Linked DNA regions of Homo sapiens: region 2 is linked to region 1. The links come from fine-mapping of genetic effects on gene expression. A gene starts in region 1. The other region holds a variant in brackets. All regions are shown on one strand. Distances are from middle to middle.

Evidence for each region.
Region 2: its variant is fine-mapped to the expression of WDR33 in whole blood (TOPMed, PIP 0.95).

The regions. Positions count from the first base shown.
Region 1 is chr2:127,807,654-127,815,997 of GRCh38, reverse strand. It overlaps WDR33 (WD repeat domain 33), which reads left to right and starts at 4,827. Exons shown (of 22, transcript NM_018383.5): 1 at 4,827-4,986. LOC124907885 (a long non-coding RNA gene) reads right to left here and starts at 4,747. Exons shown (of 2, transcript XR_007087230.1): 1 at 3,855-4,747; 2 at 2,266-3,486. RefSeq lists enhancers at 4,526-4,595, 4,866-5,155, 5,176-5,255, 5,336-5,415, 4,822-5,762 and 1 more.
Region 2 is chr2:127,760,018-127,768,361 of GRCh38, reverse strand. WDR33 (WD repeat domain 33) reads left to right here. Exons shown (of 22, transcript NM_018383.5): 4 at 69-173; 5 at 3,093-3,188; 6 at 3,383-3,534; 7 at 5,203-5,300. Among named protein-coding and RNA genes, the nearest start is that of WDR33, 47 kb to the left of the region's middle. The variant T/A (reference allele first, on the strand shown) is at 3,733.

The DNA.
Region 1 (8,344 bases):
CAGGATGGTCTTGATCTCCTGACCTCGTGATCTGCCCGCCTTGGCCTCCCAAAGTGCTGGGATTACAGGTGTGAGCCACTGCGCCTGGCCTCCTTTTATTTTTTTTTTAGGGACAGAGTTTTGCTGTGTGGCTCAGGCTGGAGTGCAGTGGTACGATCTCGGCTCACTGCAACCTCTGCCTCCCGGGTTCAAGTGATTCTTCTGCCTCAGCTTCCCAAGTAACTGGGACTACAGGCATGCACCACCATGCCCAGCTAATTTTTGTATTTTTTAGTAGAGATGGGGTTTCACCATATGCTGGCCAGGCTGGTCTCGAACTCCTGATCTTAGTTGATCCGCCCGCTTCGGCCTCCCAAAGTGCTAGGATTACAGGCATGAGCCACCACACCTGGCGTAGTTTGTTTCTGATTTTTTTTGTTAGCAGGCTTGCTTTCTCTGCCTCTAGAAAGGGGGGAGAAAGCTGTATTATGCAGAGATGATGAGAACAGGATGCGTAGAAATAGTCTATGCTAATCCAGTGGGAGGTGGCATACTCAGCTGTATTTACATATAAAGAATGCACAGGGATGGTGATTGCAGCATTATTTGTATTAGCTGGTTTTGATTTCCTGAGCTCAAGTGATCCTCCCACCTAGGCCTCCCAAAGTTCTGGGATTACAGGCATGAGCCACCGCTTCAGGCCTGAGAAGCTGTTACAAAGAACGAAGATATGTCTACACGTGAACTGAGAAGGAAAGGTGCCAAGATATATTGCCAAAAGAGTACAATTTGGATAGTATCCTATCTGTGTAGGAAAAATGTACTTGTATACAATATTTTCATGTATGTGTAAAGACAATAGTGGCTGGGTGCTATGGCTAATGCCAGTAATACTAGTGTTTTGAGAGGCTGAAGTGGGAGGATCAGTTAAGGATAGGAGTTCAAGATCAGCATAGGCAACATAGTGAGATCTCATCTCTATAAAAAATTGAGAAAATTAACCAGGTGTGGTGGTGCACCCCTATAGTCCCAGCTATTTGGAAGGCTCAAATGGGAGGATCACTTGAGGCCAGGAGTTCAAGGCCAGCCTGGGCAACATAGGGAGACGCTATGTCCCTAAAAAAAGAAGTAAATAAATAAATCAGGATAGTGAACTGTCATTTACCTATCACCTAGCCAATCTTGTGTCTATGTCCCTCTCTCCTCCCTTGTAACTTAGTGGAGATTTAGCCATTTTTTTTCTTGAATAAACAATCCTTATCTTGTTGAAAGACCTTGGTTAATTTCCAGCACTCTGAACACTGAAAAAATTGATTTTGACAAAATTTTGCCAGTGTTTTGTGGCTTTTATGAAGGAGAAGATTTTCAGATGTTCTTACTCAACCATTTCTGCTGATGTGCTTGGCTGGAATCACTTAAAGCCAATTCCAGACATCATATCATTTAACTCATACATACTTCAGGACACAACAGGTAAAGATTTTACTTATTTATTTTTGAGATGGAGTCTTGCTTTGTTGCCCAGGCTGGAATGAAGTGACACAATCTTGGCTCACTGCAACTTCCGCCTCCGGGGTTCAAGCGATTCTGCTGCCTCAGCCTCCTGAGTAGCTGGGATTACAGGTGCCCACCACCATGCCCAGCTATTTTTTTTTTTTTTTTTTGTATTTTTAGTAGAGATGGGATTTCACCACGTTGACCAGGTTGGTCTTGAAATCCTGACCTCATGTGATCCACCCACCTCAGCCTCCCAAAGTACTGGGATTACAGGTGTGAGCCACGGTGCCCAGCCAACAGGTAAAGATTTTAAAAAATTAATGAAAAGGCCGGGCGCAGTGGCTCACGCCTGTAATCCCAGCACTTTGGGAGGCCGAGGCAGGTGCATCACAAGGTAAGGAATTCAAGACCAGCCTGGCCAAGATAGTGAAACCCCGTCTCTACTAAAAATACAAAAATTAGCCGGGTATGATGGTGCAAGCCTGTAATTCCAACTACTCAGGAGGCTGAGGCAGAAGAATTACTTGAACCTGGGAGGCGGAGGTTGCAGTGAGCTGAGATCGCGCCACTGCACTCCAGCCTGGGCGACAGAGCAAGACTCCGTCTCAAAATAAATAAATAAATAATGAAAATATAGTTGTTACATATAACAAATTTAAAAACTCTTTAAAATGTCTTTTCCCCCCAGTTTGTTCAATTGGGACCCAAATAGGGAGTACACATTCCATTTGGTTGATATGCCTCTTAAGTCTCTAACCTGTAACAGATAATCTCTAACAGTTTCTTTCCTCAGTTTTTAAATTTTTATTGGAAGAAAATGTATCACATGTAAAATTTTATAAAATATAGAATATGGCTGACTGCATCCTTGCAGTATACTTAACAGATTCATTTGTCTCCTGGTCAATTTAAAAAACAATTTTCCAGGAAGGGGCCTGTGAGGTTACAGGTGTGAAGGATTTTTGCCCTTGATTAGACTGCTCCTCCAATTCAGTACATTTTAAAGATTTTCAGGGATCAGGACACTGCCTGAATGCCTCCTCTACCACTCCCAGTATAATTTCTAGGAACTGACCACTTGCTTGTCTTTTCTGCCTAACTTCTAAACCCAATTGATGAGCGGACTTCTTAGCGTTACCTTCCTGACCCCATTCCCTACCTTCAGCCCTTGAGAATCCTGCCTTCTATCCTGGCTTTCCTGCCTTGCACTCAGGGTGTCCATGGCTTCCTTCCATCCTAACCTAAGCTCATCACACAGAACTGGAATTGTCTGGCCTCCTTACATATTTCTAGACACATATCAAAATAAGATTATAGGGGCTGGGCGTGGTGGCGCATGGCCTGTAATCCCAGCACTTTGGGAGGCTGAGGCAGGAGGATTGCTTGAACCCAGGAGTTTGAGACCGCCCTGGGCAACATAATCAGATCTTGTCTCTGTCTCACGTGTCCGTGTGAAGAGACCACCAAACAGGCTTTGTGTGAGCAACAAGGCTGTTTATTTCACCTGGGTGCAGGTGGGCTGAGTCCGAAAAGAGAGTCAGCAAAGGGTGGTGGGATTATCATTAGTTCTTACAGGTTTTGGGATAGGCATTGGAGTTTGGAGCAATGTTTTGTGGGCAGGGGGTGGATCTCACAAAGTACATTCTCAAGGGTGGGAGAATTATAAAGAACCTTCTTAAGGGTCGGGGAAATTACAAAGTACATTGATCAGTTAGGGTGGGGCAGAAACAAATTACAATGGTGGAATGTCATCAGTTAAGGCTATTTTCACTTTTGTGGATCTTCAGTTGCTTCAGGCCATCTGGATGTATACGTGCAAGTCACTGGGGATATGATGGCTTAGCTTGGGCTCTGAGGCCTGACAGTCTCTACTAAAATTAGCTGGGTATGGGTGTCCTGGTACAGGTCATTAGTCTGAGCTACTAGGGAGGCTGAGGTGAGAGGATCACTTGAGCCCGGGAGGTTGAGGCTGCAGTGAGTTATGATCACCCTGGGTGAGAGACCTTGTCTCTAAAAAAAGAAAAAATATAGAAGTTTATAAACATTTCTGATGTTATCATAAAAACTTTAGATACTGTGTAATGTCTGCATGATAGTCTACGTATGGATGTGCCATTATTTAATCACTGTCTGCTACTGTTTCCTTTTTTTTTTGCTATCATTAATACCTCAAAGATTAGTACACAAATCTTACTCACATCTCTGAGGCTATCCTTAGAATAGATTTTTGGAAGGGGATTATGGAGTCAAAAGTAAGACTTCTTTGAGACAGGGTCTTACTCTGCTTCCAAGACTTAAGTGCACTGGCACGATCTTGGCTCACTGCGCCCTCCAACTCCTGGGCTCAAGTGATCCTCCCACCCCAGTCTCCCAAGTACCCATCACAGGAACGATCACAGGAAGGCGGTCACAGGAACGCACCCCGACGCGCAAAGATGGGATCTCGCCATGTTCCCCAGGCTGGTACGATTCCTGATTCATACTGGAGAACAACTTGCTGTGCAGTTATATTTTGAACCTCATCAAAATGGAATCATACAGCGTCCTCTTCTTTGTGCCTAAGTTAACAGTAGCTGCTATTCGTTCAGGCTGTTGCGTTTATCCGTAACTTCCTATTTCTCTGTAGAAATCCACTGTATGATACACCACAATTTAGCCACTCAACTGCTGATGGACATTTAGGTTACCAGTTTTTTACTACTACGAATAAACGTGCTATGGACATTCTTGCACATGCCTTTGGTGGACGTATGCACTCATTCCTCTTGAAGTGAAATTTCTGGGGTCACAAGGTAAGCGTACATTTAGCTTTGGCAGAAACTGCAGCGGTTTTCCAAAATGGTTGCATCGTGGGGCTGTTTTTCTATCTTGGTCGCTGGACTTTAAGCGAGGCGTAATCTAGAGGCACAACTGGCTCGGGTAAGGCGTGGAGCCTGACTGTGTGCCGGGATCTGCCAGGGCTGCCACCAGCTAGCTGCACGGGTGAACAGACTCAGCAAGGTGCCACAGTGGCTTCCCACAGATCCACTCTCGGTGGGCTCGGTCCAACGACCCGCTATGTCTGCCGTACTGGCCCCGTACAAATATACTCATTCACATACTGGAAAACGGGGTGTTTTTCAGAGCATACACGTTAGCTCACACTGTAAAAAAAAGTCAGCACTGCGAAACGCAGTCGCTTCTTTCCTCCAGGAGGTAGCGCGTCCTACTCGCTCCGGAACAAAGGAAGCGCTCTGCAGGGTCTCGCGGCTCGGCACCTCACCTAGGCACATGCGCAGATCGAACCTCACAGAGGCCCGCGGTCCAGGCGCGCGTGACGTAGCGCCGTCCCGCCAGTGCGTGATGACCCCAGAGCGTGCGTTCGGTGGCCCATAGGGGAAGATGGCGGCTGCTCCTTTGGAGGAGCGGGATTGAGAGGATCGGGGTGGGGAGACCAAACAAGAGAGACATTTCTGGCTCTGAAGGCGAACGCTTCGCTGGCCATTTAGGAGCTCTGCTCAAAGCCAGACGGTGAGTGCGGCGGCGACACGGGACTGCTCGCCTGCAGCAGGCAGCGGCACTCTCCGCCATTTTCGGGCTCGGCCGTTGCGTGCTTTGGGGGCCTGGACGGGCGCCTGGGCACAGGTTGGAGGAACTGGGAGAATCGACCTCGGGGCGGCTGTTCGAGGCAGGTTCGAGACTTATGGGAGGGGGCTGGAGGCTGGAGGCCAACCGGGAAAAGCGGCCATGGTTAGAACTAAGGCCCTGACTGGGAGCGGTGGCGACGAGAAGACGTAAGTCAGGCCACAGTTAAGACGTGAAGTTTGGAGGGAAATGCATTTTAACTGAGGTTTGGGGCGGGAGTGGAAAGAAGTGGGCCGAGTTGAAGTAGTTGGTTGAAAGGGTCAAGGGAAGTTAACGTGAAATCTGCAAAACAGCTGAAGACTTAGCCGTGATGTTATCGTGGCTTGAAATCGGTGCTTATTATAAGGATGAGGCTACAGCTTGACAGGCAAAGCCCTGCTTTTTTGGAATAGTTGTATTTCTATTTGGTTTGTGCTAGATCCCTGTTTCTGATTTTAAGTTGTCTTCTGGCAACTAAGTAGTGAGGATCTTAGCATGCCTTCTTAAAAGAAATGACAATGAATGTTTGTACTTGGTTGTAACCCTTGGGATTAGTGGCCCCTTCCGGAGTAAGGAGGAGGCGGCGGCGGCAGGTCGGTAGGGAATTCCGTAATTGGATCTATTTAAATCAAATCAGAAAAATACGGGCTACTTGTAGAAAGCCTGTCAAGAATGTTTTAAAGTAGTTTCTACACACATGATCTTAAGTTGACTGTTCAGGAACTTTGGAAGACATTAGAATATGAACAAAAAGCCTGCACTGAAAGGAACAACTCTGGGGAGCGTAGACTTTACTTTTTTAGTACACTCTGGAGAGCTAATGCATGCTATATATACATATATATGTGTATATATGTGTGTGTGTATGTATATATAGCCTGTGAATATGGTGCAGTGGTAAACCTACTTAATTCAAACCTTTTAGTGACAGTTATGCTAGTTGTACCTCTTGTGGCATTTTTCATTTCCTCGCCTTAATTGCATTTTACCCATTTTTTATTACTGTAAGATACTTTTGCTTTTTTTGTCTCCTTGACCGGGAGAAGATAAAATATTGTATAGATTTGAGTTTTTGCTGAGACTTGAAGTTCCATATTTAGACTATCTTCTTGAAACTTGGGGAGAAATTTTAACTTGTCTTTCCTGTACTCCTAGGAAGAATTTTGGTAGAAAGTTGGCTTATGGCCGGGCGCGGTGGCTCACGCCTGTAATCCCAGCACTTTGGGACGCCAGGGTGGGCGGATCACCTGAGGTCAGGAGTTCGAGACCAGCCTGACCAACATGGCGGAACCCCGTCTCTACTAAAAATACAAAAATTAGCTGGGTGTGGTGGTGGGCGCCTGTAATCCCAGCTACTCGGGAGGCTGAGGCAAGAGAATCACTTGAACCCCGGAGGCAGAGGTTGCAGTGAGCCAAGATCGCGCCATTGCACTCTAGCCTGGGCAACAGAGCGAGACTCCGTCTCAAAAAAAAAAAAAAAAAAAAAAAAAGGAATTTGGCTTACATATATTACAATGGTTTAGACAAAAATAAATGTTTATCTGTGAAGCTGATGGCTTAACTTGGATAATTTTCTTTGGTTGGTGAAAAATACTAAACAGATTTTGCCATCACGGTTTTATATTGACGTAAGGCTTTAATTATATTTTTACTAAGCACTTAAGGTATTTATTCAGAGCTCTCTTTGCTAAGTAATAAGTTCATATACTTTTCCCATTACTTTGCGGTGGAATATTATTTGATTATGGCTGAAGTTTGAACTGCTTCATATTTCAGAATAGGATAGTAAGGTTACAGAAAAGCTTTATGATTACGACAAAGATATTAGTGAAAAATTTTCACTTATAAATGTGTTTCTGGAATTCTTTTTTTTTTTTTTTTTTTTTTGAGACAAGAGTTTCGCTCTGTCGCCCAGGCTGGAGTGCAGTGGCGCGATCTTTGGCTCGCTGCAAGCTCCGCCTCCCGGGTTCACGCCATTCTCCTGCCTGAGCCTCCCGAGTAGCTGGGACTATAGGCGCCCGCCACCGCGTCCGGCTAATTTTTTGTATTTTTAGTAGAGACGGGATTTCACCGTGTTAGCTAGGATGGTCTCGATCTCCTGACCTCGTGATCCGCCCATCTCGGCCTCCCAAAGTGCTGGGATTACAGGCGTGAGCCACCGCACCTGGCCAATTTTTGTATTTTTTAGTAGAGGCGGGGTTTCACCATGTTGGCCAGGCTGGTCTCAAACTCCTGACCTCAAATGATCCACCTGTCTGGGCCTCCCAAAGTGCTGGGATTACAGGCATGAGCCACCGCGCTCTGCTGAAAATGATTTTTCTTTGGTAACATTTATCTCCCCATTTCAAACCATTTACATTAGTCCTAGAGACTGAAGCTCTTCAGTGTATTGGAAAATCTGAGCAGTGCTACTCTCATCTGTCTGGCCCTTAAACATTTTACTAATTTTCTGGTAGTGACTGACTTTCTAAAGTTGTATTGTATCTTGTACTCATGATTTGTGTGCTTATAAATTCCCAGAGCTAGGTAGTATTGGAAAGGGCATGTATGGGTTTCAGCAGCAAATGGACCTAGGTTTGAATGCCAGGCTCACCATTAACTACCTTTTTTATATTGGGTCAGTTAATTAAACTCTCTAAGCTTCAGTTTCTTTGTATATAAGAATGTTAACTATAAAACCTAAAGGTAAAAAGTGCCTCATATATAGTAGGCATTCTTTAAATGTTAACATTTTTTTTCTTTCTGTGATGAATTTAATTGGTGACATCATTTTCAGTTTTAAACATTAACTCAAATATCTTTGTTGAAATTTACTGACAATCTCATTCCTCTGATAAGTTAATCACTCCTTTCTCTGCTATTAAAGCATTTTGTATATATCTTTAATGTATTTTGACTATACCTTCTCCACTACTTGTGAATACTTTGGTTTTTAGTTTGTTTGTTTGTTTTCTGAGACAGGGTCTCACTTTGTCACCCAGGCTGGAATACAGTGGCATGATCATGGCTCACTGTAGCCTCTAATTCCTAGGCTCAAGCGATCCTCCCACTTCAGCCTTTCAAAGTCTTGGGAGTCATGAGTCCCTGCTGCCAGCTCTTTGTGAGCACGTTGAAGACGTGCTATAGTACCTTATATTTTTGTATTCCTAAAACCTAGGCATTATACAAATTGAAGAATGAATTTTCTACAAAAATTCCCCTCATGACTTGGTTTATTTCTGATCTTTGGCTGTTGCTTATTAACTCTTTGCCTAGATTGTATTCT
Region 2 (8,344 bases), 48 kb after region 1:
GCCGTGTTTCTGGTTTCTGCCTTGTATGTAATCAGGAGCTCTAAGAACCCAATTTTCCTTTTTTGTAGCTGGTCCCACCTATAGGAATGTTGAATAATCCTATGAATGCAGTAACAACAAAATTTGTTCGGACATCAACAAATAAAGTAAAGTGTCCTGTATTTGTTGTTAGGGTAAGTAATCTGTTGGATATTTTGGGGGAAAATTAATCCTGCGTTATATAGCAAATGTATTTGACAGGGCAAAGAAAATTAAACATTATTTTAAAAGTATATCTGGGCTTATAATTGGTTTATTGCTAGTAATTTTATTTTGGAATATCCAGTTGTTTATCTACTTTATCACCATTGAGTGAGATACCACTTTTGGATTGTTTTTCTTCATGTGGCAATTTCTGTAGAATTCTCTCTGAATAGATGGATACATGTTGTAGCAGGTCTCAGAGTTGCGTTTGAGTAGGAATGCTTTTATTAACTATTTAGAAAGCAGCATCCCAAGGTAAATGAAAAATACTTAGGAGTTAACAGACAGGAAAACATCTGAGAGCTGAAGAACTGTGGTGTACCGTAATTTTTAGCTCTATGAAGGTACCTAGTAGGCACTTAATACATTTAAACTGAAATTTTATTTTATTTTTTTATTTTTTTTAGACAGAGTCTCACTCGGTCACCCAGGCTGGAGTGCAGTGGCGTGATCTCGGCTCACTGCAAGCTCCGCCCCCCGGGTTCACGCCATTCTCCTGCCTCAGCCTCCCTAGTAGCTGGGACTACAGGCGCCTGCCACCATGCCCGGCTACTTTTTTTTGTATTTTTAGTAGAGACGGGGTTTCACCGTGTTAGCCAGGATAGTCTCAATCTCTTGACCTCGTGATCTGCCCACCTCAGCCTCCCAAAGTGCTGGGATTACAGGCATGAGCCACCGTGCCCGGCCTTAAACTGAAACTAATTTTAAAACTGAAACTAAATTTAAAAAATATAATTTTTAGTTATAACCCCGATTTTCATAGATGATAATGTAATCATTTTCTTCTTTGTGTTTCGATTATTCCATTTCCTAGCTAATGCACTTGTTGGTTAACAGTCTTAAGTTGAGCAAATAACAGTTGAAAAAAAATGAGACCGAGAAAAGACGATTGTGTCAAACATTAGTGGCAGATGAGGAAAATAAGCAGATCTTCTGATATCAGAGGAGTATGATAGAGAGCAGGGAGAACCAAGAAGTCCTGGGAGAGAGATGTCAGTCTGAACTCCATAGAAATAGCTGCATTTAGTCTTAGGCCTCTTATTTGCCTGAGAGGCCTTAGGCAGTAGACACATCACTCACACCTGTAATCCCAGCACTTTGAGAGGCTGAAGTGGGTGGATCACCTGCGGTCGGGAGTTTGAGACCAGCCTGACCAATATGATGAAACCTCGTGTTTACTAAAAATACAAAAATTAGCCGGGTGTGGTGGCACGTGCCTGAGAGAGGAGGCTGAGACAGGGGAATCACTTGAACCTGGGAGGTGGAGGTTGCAGTGAGCCTAGATTGTGCCACTGCACTCTAGCCTGGGCGACAAGATCGAAACTCTGTTTCAAAAAAAAAAAAGAAACATTGTTATGTGAGTAGAAGCAACCAGTGTGTAGTCTAATTTTTTTTTTAATCAGGGAATTTGGTTAAAGGGGTATGATGTGCAGCTAATTTTAATATCCTCTTAGCATAGCATGGAAAACCTTTTTGAAAAGAATAAAATCCGAGCATCCATATCTTATAAGGTGGGTAAATGTTCTCATTTGGGGATTACGCTATAAGGTTTGAGGAAGAATTTGCACATAGTAGAGGCACAGTCAAAATCAAAAGGTATTAAGGTATAAAGACTGTGGGCTCTGTGTCTACAGTTTGGTTGTCTGTAGTATTGACCGGGTTAGGATCCATACCAGATAACAGAAACTAGAAAGAGGGGAGGCTTTTAATCTGATAATCAAAACTGTGACTTACAGGTAAGCAATGAAAAGCCAAATTGTCATATATATTTGTGTAATTTAAGAAATAACCTTCATTTTATATATCCTTACTGTTTCTATAAGCACATATGTATTTGTATTTTTCAACTTTGTCGGAGTTTTTGGAAAATAGGATTGTTGTATTGCCATTTTGTATATTTACATCTTTTAAGGAAAATGAGTGTGTGATCCATCATAGAAACTTGAAAATAAAAAGTAAAAACAAAAAATTTGAATGTTTCAAATTAACCAGCACATATGCCACAGATTTCCTTTAGTATGCAAATTGTGACATCAAAATACTGATGTAAAAATATTTAAAGGGCCTTAAGTGCAAAAAGTAATAAAGGACTTTAGGTTTAATTTAAAAAGAGAAAAGGTGCACTTAAAAGTGCAAAAAAAGTTATTGGCATAGTCATTCCCTGAAAATATATACATCTATGTGTATCCATTAGAATTAAAACTTTTGGTGTAGTGTTAATTAGTCATGGCACTATTATGGTTTTTTTTGAGAGTAGATCAGCGTAAGAGTTATCACTGCTTGGTACTTTGAATGGAGGAGAGCTTACTTTTTTTTTTTTTTTTAAATATGTTTAGCTGCAGGAAGAGTTTGAAAGCCTCAGTGTCCTTAAATCGGTACTTATTATTATCTTGTTTTTTTAATTAAACACTGGTAACTTTTCTTTCTGAATTTGTCCTCTCTTACTTGTAAGCACCATATCCTTTATTCAGTCTTTGAGTTGTTCTGGTGACTGATCACCTTATTTATGTTAGTCTATCGTATAGCCTAGGGAAATGAGGTCTTTGCATATTCTGTTTTGAAATGGTCTTTAGCATGCATACGTGTGTGTAATTTAGTGAGTAGGTGCGTATACTCATAATGTACTTACTGTCTTTAATTTAGCTAATAAACCAAAGGACTAGAGCTTTCCTTGCACAGTGTTAAGTTGTTTTCTGACAAAGTACTTCTGATAAAGCTGAGCTACATTTAAGTGAAAGTCAGTATCATTATTTAATGTCAGTTATTGCATGTTTTACAAATACCTTTAATATGTTTTTCAAAATTAGTGAAGTTGGAGGATGTATAACCTGTCTTTTTTTCTCCCTTAGTGGACTCCAGAAGGAAGACGCTTGGTCACTGGAGCTTCTAGTGGGGAGTTTACCCTGTGGAATGGACTCACTTTCAATTTTGAAACAATATTACAGGTAATGATAATCACCAGATGGTATCATCATCCTGTGGTACTGTAAAGAACTTGAGATATAGTCATTTCATTGGCATTGTTAAACTTAGAATTGGGACGAATTATTACCTCGAGTCAGTTATATGCTCTTGTAAGCCTTTAGTCATATATTCTTTGAAGCAGCACCTTACTAATTAATGTTTTCTGCTTTCACAGGCTCACGACAGCCCAGTGAGGGCCATGACGTGGTCACATAATGACATGTGGATGTTGACAGCAGACCACGGAGGATATGTGAAATATTGGCAGTCGAACATGAACAACGTCAAGATGTTCCAGGCACATAAGGAGGCGATTAGAGAGGCCAGGTTTATACACAATATACCATTTTCTGTAGTCCCTATTGTCATGGTTAAATTATTCTCTAAGTGTATTCTGGGTGCAGAGATGCATGGGCTCTGTCAGTTTCTGGGAAACTTTCTGCACCCTATAAACACAATATTTTTCTTTGTTTTCACACATTCACCATTTTGCTGGCACCTTTCTGAAGTAGTGTTGTCCCGGTA[T/A]CAGCCTTTGCAATATGTTAGAGATGTACTGTCTGCCGCATTTTGCACTGGTTTTCTCTTTTCATTTATGATTAATAATGTGTATACGTTATTCCTTTTTATTATCTACTGTGTAAGACAAGAATATTTCATTCCAAATAAAGAATTCAGTCTTTAATTATGCAACTGAATAAAATCTAAAGCCTACAGAAAACAACTTCAGAATTCACACAAAGTGGAAAAAGGCTTAAGTGAAGACCTGGTTGGCTTGGTTATGCCACGACTTCCAAAGGAAAGTATAGGACTAAAACCCTCACAGATAACTGGATGTGGCAAACATTAACGGAGTAATGAATGGGTTCTTCAAGCTTTGCAGCTGTAAGCAGATCATTGTCAAGAAGACTCTAGGACTTTTCTTCTGATTCACTGTTGATAACATCACTTATGCAAATGTATACAATAAGTGGAGTTTAAAATATTTTCAGTGAGTTGTATATTTTTACACATCAGTGAGGTATGTATAGTAAAACTGGGGGAAAAAGTTCCAAATACAAGCCTGAAGAATTGCTGCAGCCTCAGAATAAAGCTAAGCAGCATTCTTTAAGGTTGTGCCACCCATGTGTGGGAGGAGGTTGACATCTTTATGGAAACATCATCCACTGTAGTCATTTGTTCATACTTTCAGAATCTTAACAGAAATTGTTGGATGAACATGCTTCTGCTTTGTAGATTTTGCCTTAGTGTCATGCCCATACATTGAGTTTACACAGCTGGTCCTTCATAGGATTCCAAAGTTCAAGGGAGTTTTTAGAGTTAGTTGAGAAACTTGATGATCTTTCACTGCTGGGAAAAACTGACTCCTTCTTGCAGCAGATTCTTTGGCTTTACACACAAGTCTGAATGTCCTTATTTTAAAGTTTTCCTCAAAGGTGCAACATTCATGGAATAGCTTGCCAGGAAGATGTGAAACTTTTCTACAGACCTTTGAAATGGATGAGAAACATTGTATGTAGGGATGTTTAGCAATCAGTCTTTTAATAGACAGCCCACATTGTTTCAGCTTATTTCATGAAGTGTCTGAGGCAGAAGCTGATGATAATTTTGGGAGCAGTATTCGTGTGTGATTTAAAAGACTGCAGGAATACTGCAAAAATAGAATCCATTTATTTTCACCACTTAAGGCAGCTTCATGTGATTTCCTCGTATCATAGAAAATAGAGAAGGAACATGGATAGCATTAGCACTAATAATACACACTTGAAGTTCTCAGAATACTGATGATTGAAAACTCAAACAACTGCTCTGTTGAAGTCTTCTTTTGATGAGATGCCTATGTTAGCTGACGACATTCACTTTAAGGGCTTCTTCACTGGATTCTTCCCTCTCCTGTTTATAATGCAGCACAGTGTTTTTATTTTTCCCTGTCTGAGAAGCACAGATTATCTGTTAAATGCTGACTTCTTTCCCCTGCTGTGTGTCTTCATGTAACAGTTTCTCACCCACGGATAATAAATTTGCTACATGCTCTGATGACGGCACTGTTAGAATCTGGGACTTTCTTCGTTGCCATGAGGAAAGAATTCTCCGAGGTACGTGTACTAACAGTACTGATTGGAATATTTAAATAGGGAAGACATTTGTGGTTAAATCATCACAAAACCACAATACTGGCTTACACCTCCATTCAATTTTTTTTACATATACACACCGTCTCAGGCTCTTCAAAAAAACCCAGCACTTTCTCTGACTCACAGTCATTTTGTAGGTTTTTACTACCAGTGTTATCTTTGAATTTTTCAGCTGTAAATTAAATACAAGAGTGCCTCCCCCTTACTTGCTTATCTGTATGCATCTTTTAGGGCTGTATTCCTTTTCCTTCCTTGTAGCCAGGGTACTTGTTCCCAACATATTGACACTGTGGTTTGATTTAGATAGCCGTCATTCTCCTGGCAGTCCTTTTACAATATGAATTAACCGACAAGATAGAGGTATCAAAGCTACACTTCTTAGTGTTACTATTTTTGAAAGCAGTTGGTTTTTCAGTACACCACATTTGTACTACATGGCCGGCTTGTTACTAAGTTCGGGTGGCATTGCTGCTTGTTTACTTTTGTTGATTTTATAATTAATAAACCTCTATGAAATTACTTCATTCCGTAACTGAAGTCCATATTCTCACTTCGATTATTTTAGATTATGCATTAGAATATTGGACTTTATAAAGTGGGACTGTTGAAATATTAACAGTACATCAATGTGAGTTACGTGAATTCAGTGGTGGTAGAGTTAAGGAATTTGTTGTATATATGCAATACAAACATCACAACAAAGACACTTCTAACTGGATCCTGTTAGTTTATTAAGTAGGAAGGTAGTTTTCTCCAGTGCTTAATTTGAACCTTTTGAATGTACTGTTTAACAAACAGTACCTTCTACTCCGTACCCTTGATTCCAGGATGCCACAAAAGTACCATCTTTCTCTGACACATAAATACAGGGTGGGAGGATGGGTGCTACGGGTGTTGGGTGTCAAATTATTATTCAGAGCTTTTCCCTTATGTTCAAGAGTCAGCAGAGATCGTTGTCTTGGTTGAATCGTTAAGTTTCTCACAGTTTTTCAGAGCTTTAGCTGTAGCATATAATGTTGATGTTTTGTAGACAGGAAAGACTCTTGAGATACTTTAATGTGTATTTCAGCCCATATTTCAAGCCAGTATCTTCCATCACATTTGCTTCAACACTCCTGACTTGGCACATTTTGTTTGGGTTTATCCACAGTACTGTATGACTGTAGCTTTTGTAAGAATAGGGAACCTGTCACATTGAGGGAGTTTACTCACTATAAAGGTCATAATATTGTATAACTTCAGAACGAGACAGAGACTTTGAGATGATCATGTCTGAGTTATTTTATGGATGAGCTCCATGATGCCAAGGGTGGAAGTGACATGTTCAAAGCAAAATAGGTTCAGAGCCAGGACTAGAATCTTATCATTTGACTCCCAGCCTAATGCCACACTTATGTTGAATCTTTCCTCACTATTAGTCTTGGCTGTTAAACAGAAATAAGTGAAACATTTTCTAAGTTTTTAAAATCCTGGAAACTTAGAGAAAATGAAATAATTTTATTTATTAAAAGTAATTCTAGAGTAGCTGGGCGCGGTGGCTCACGCCTGTAATCCCAGCACTTTGGGAGGCCGAGGTGGGCGGATCACGAGGTCAGGAGATCAAGACCATCCTGGCTAACACCATGAAACTCTGTCTCTACTGAAAATACAAAAAATTAGCTGGGTGTCGTGGTGGGCGCCTGTAGTCCCAGCTACTCGGGAGGCTGAGGCAGGAGACTGGTGTGAATCCAGGTGGCGGAGCTTGCAGTGAGCGGAGTTTGCACCACTGCACTTCAGCCTGGGCAACAGAGTGAGACTCTGTCTCAAAAAAAAAAGTAATTCTAGAGTATTAAAACAACTAATTTTACAGTGGACTGTATTAACTGAAGTCTGATCTAAAACCACTTTGCTGCTTGGATTTTAAAAAGAAGGAAATCTATGTGATAACGTTTTTGAGTCCCATGATCCAGTGAAGCATTATTCAATTTTGGTAATGAATGTGTTTCATTAAGAACTTTCCTTTGAAATTTAGAGTGTGCAGGGGATATTAACTAGCAGTTAAGTATTTTCAGATAAGTCCAGGTAAATTTAGATGAAGTTAAGTAGATGCTGAATCATAAATGAGAGTTGAGATTTTTGTATGAGGTCTCTTTATTTTAGGTTTTTACTATGGAAATTTCAAACATGTACAAAGGTATAATGAGCCTTCAGGTACTTTTAGGGTTTACATTCTAGCTTTTTAATATCTTTTGATTCTTTTTAAAAAAATTCTACTTACTTTACAGTAACAATATTTTTAGTACCCCAAGACACTTCAGTATATGAGACATGAATATATTGAATTAAGTTGATTATACCACCCAAGCAGTAATTCTGATAGCAGGTCTGCTGTAGGAGAAGAGTTATTAGATTCCAGTTGTCTGTTTTCTGTCATTTCTCACTTTTCCAAATTTTATGCATCTAAGAGCTTCCCATCCTCCCCTTAGTGAGTTGTGGGGTCAGAGGGTTGGTGGATTGGTAGTGGTTTCAAGGGATGATGAGAGTTCTTTAAATAAAATGTGAAGTGAACTTACTTAGCTCTACTCAGAGAAAACTGGATCACAAAGTCAAACAAATAGGGACAGGATAGTCTAACCTCTAAAATATCAGTTGCCCTTTATTAAGGATGATGTTCATGTAACACGCATAGACTCTATGGCATCAGGTAGATAAGCATACTCCTTTGCATTGTTAGTGTTGTGTATCAAGTCATTACTTTTGGAGTTAAGTATTCAGAAAATCCAAAATAATTCTATTTAAGGGGAGTTTGTGATCATACAGTCAAACTCTTATCAAATACTTTTCTACAACATTCCTAAAAACTAGCCTTCTACTCACAGACATTCTCAGTGATGTAATATTCCTTACTTCACATGAATTCCTTAAATAGCTCTAATTTTCAGGAAATTCTTTCTTTATATCAGAAACCTGCTTCCTTACAACTTGTCTTGCCTACGGGAATACCAAAAATTAAGTCTGCACTTAAT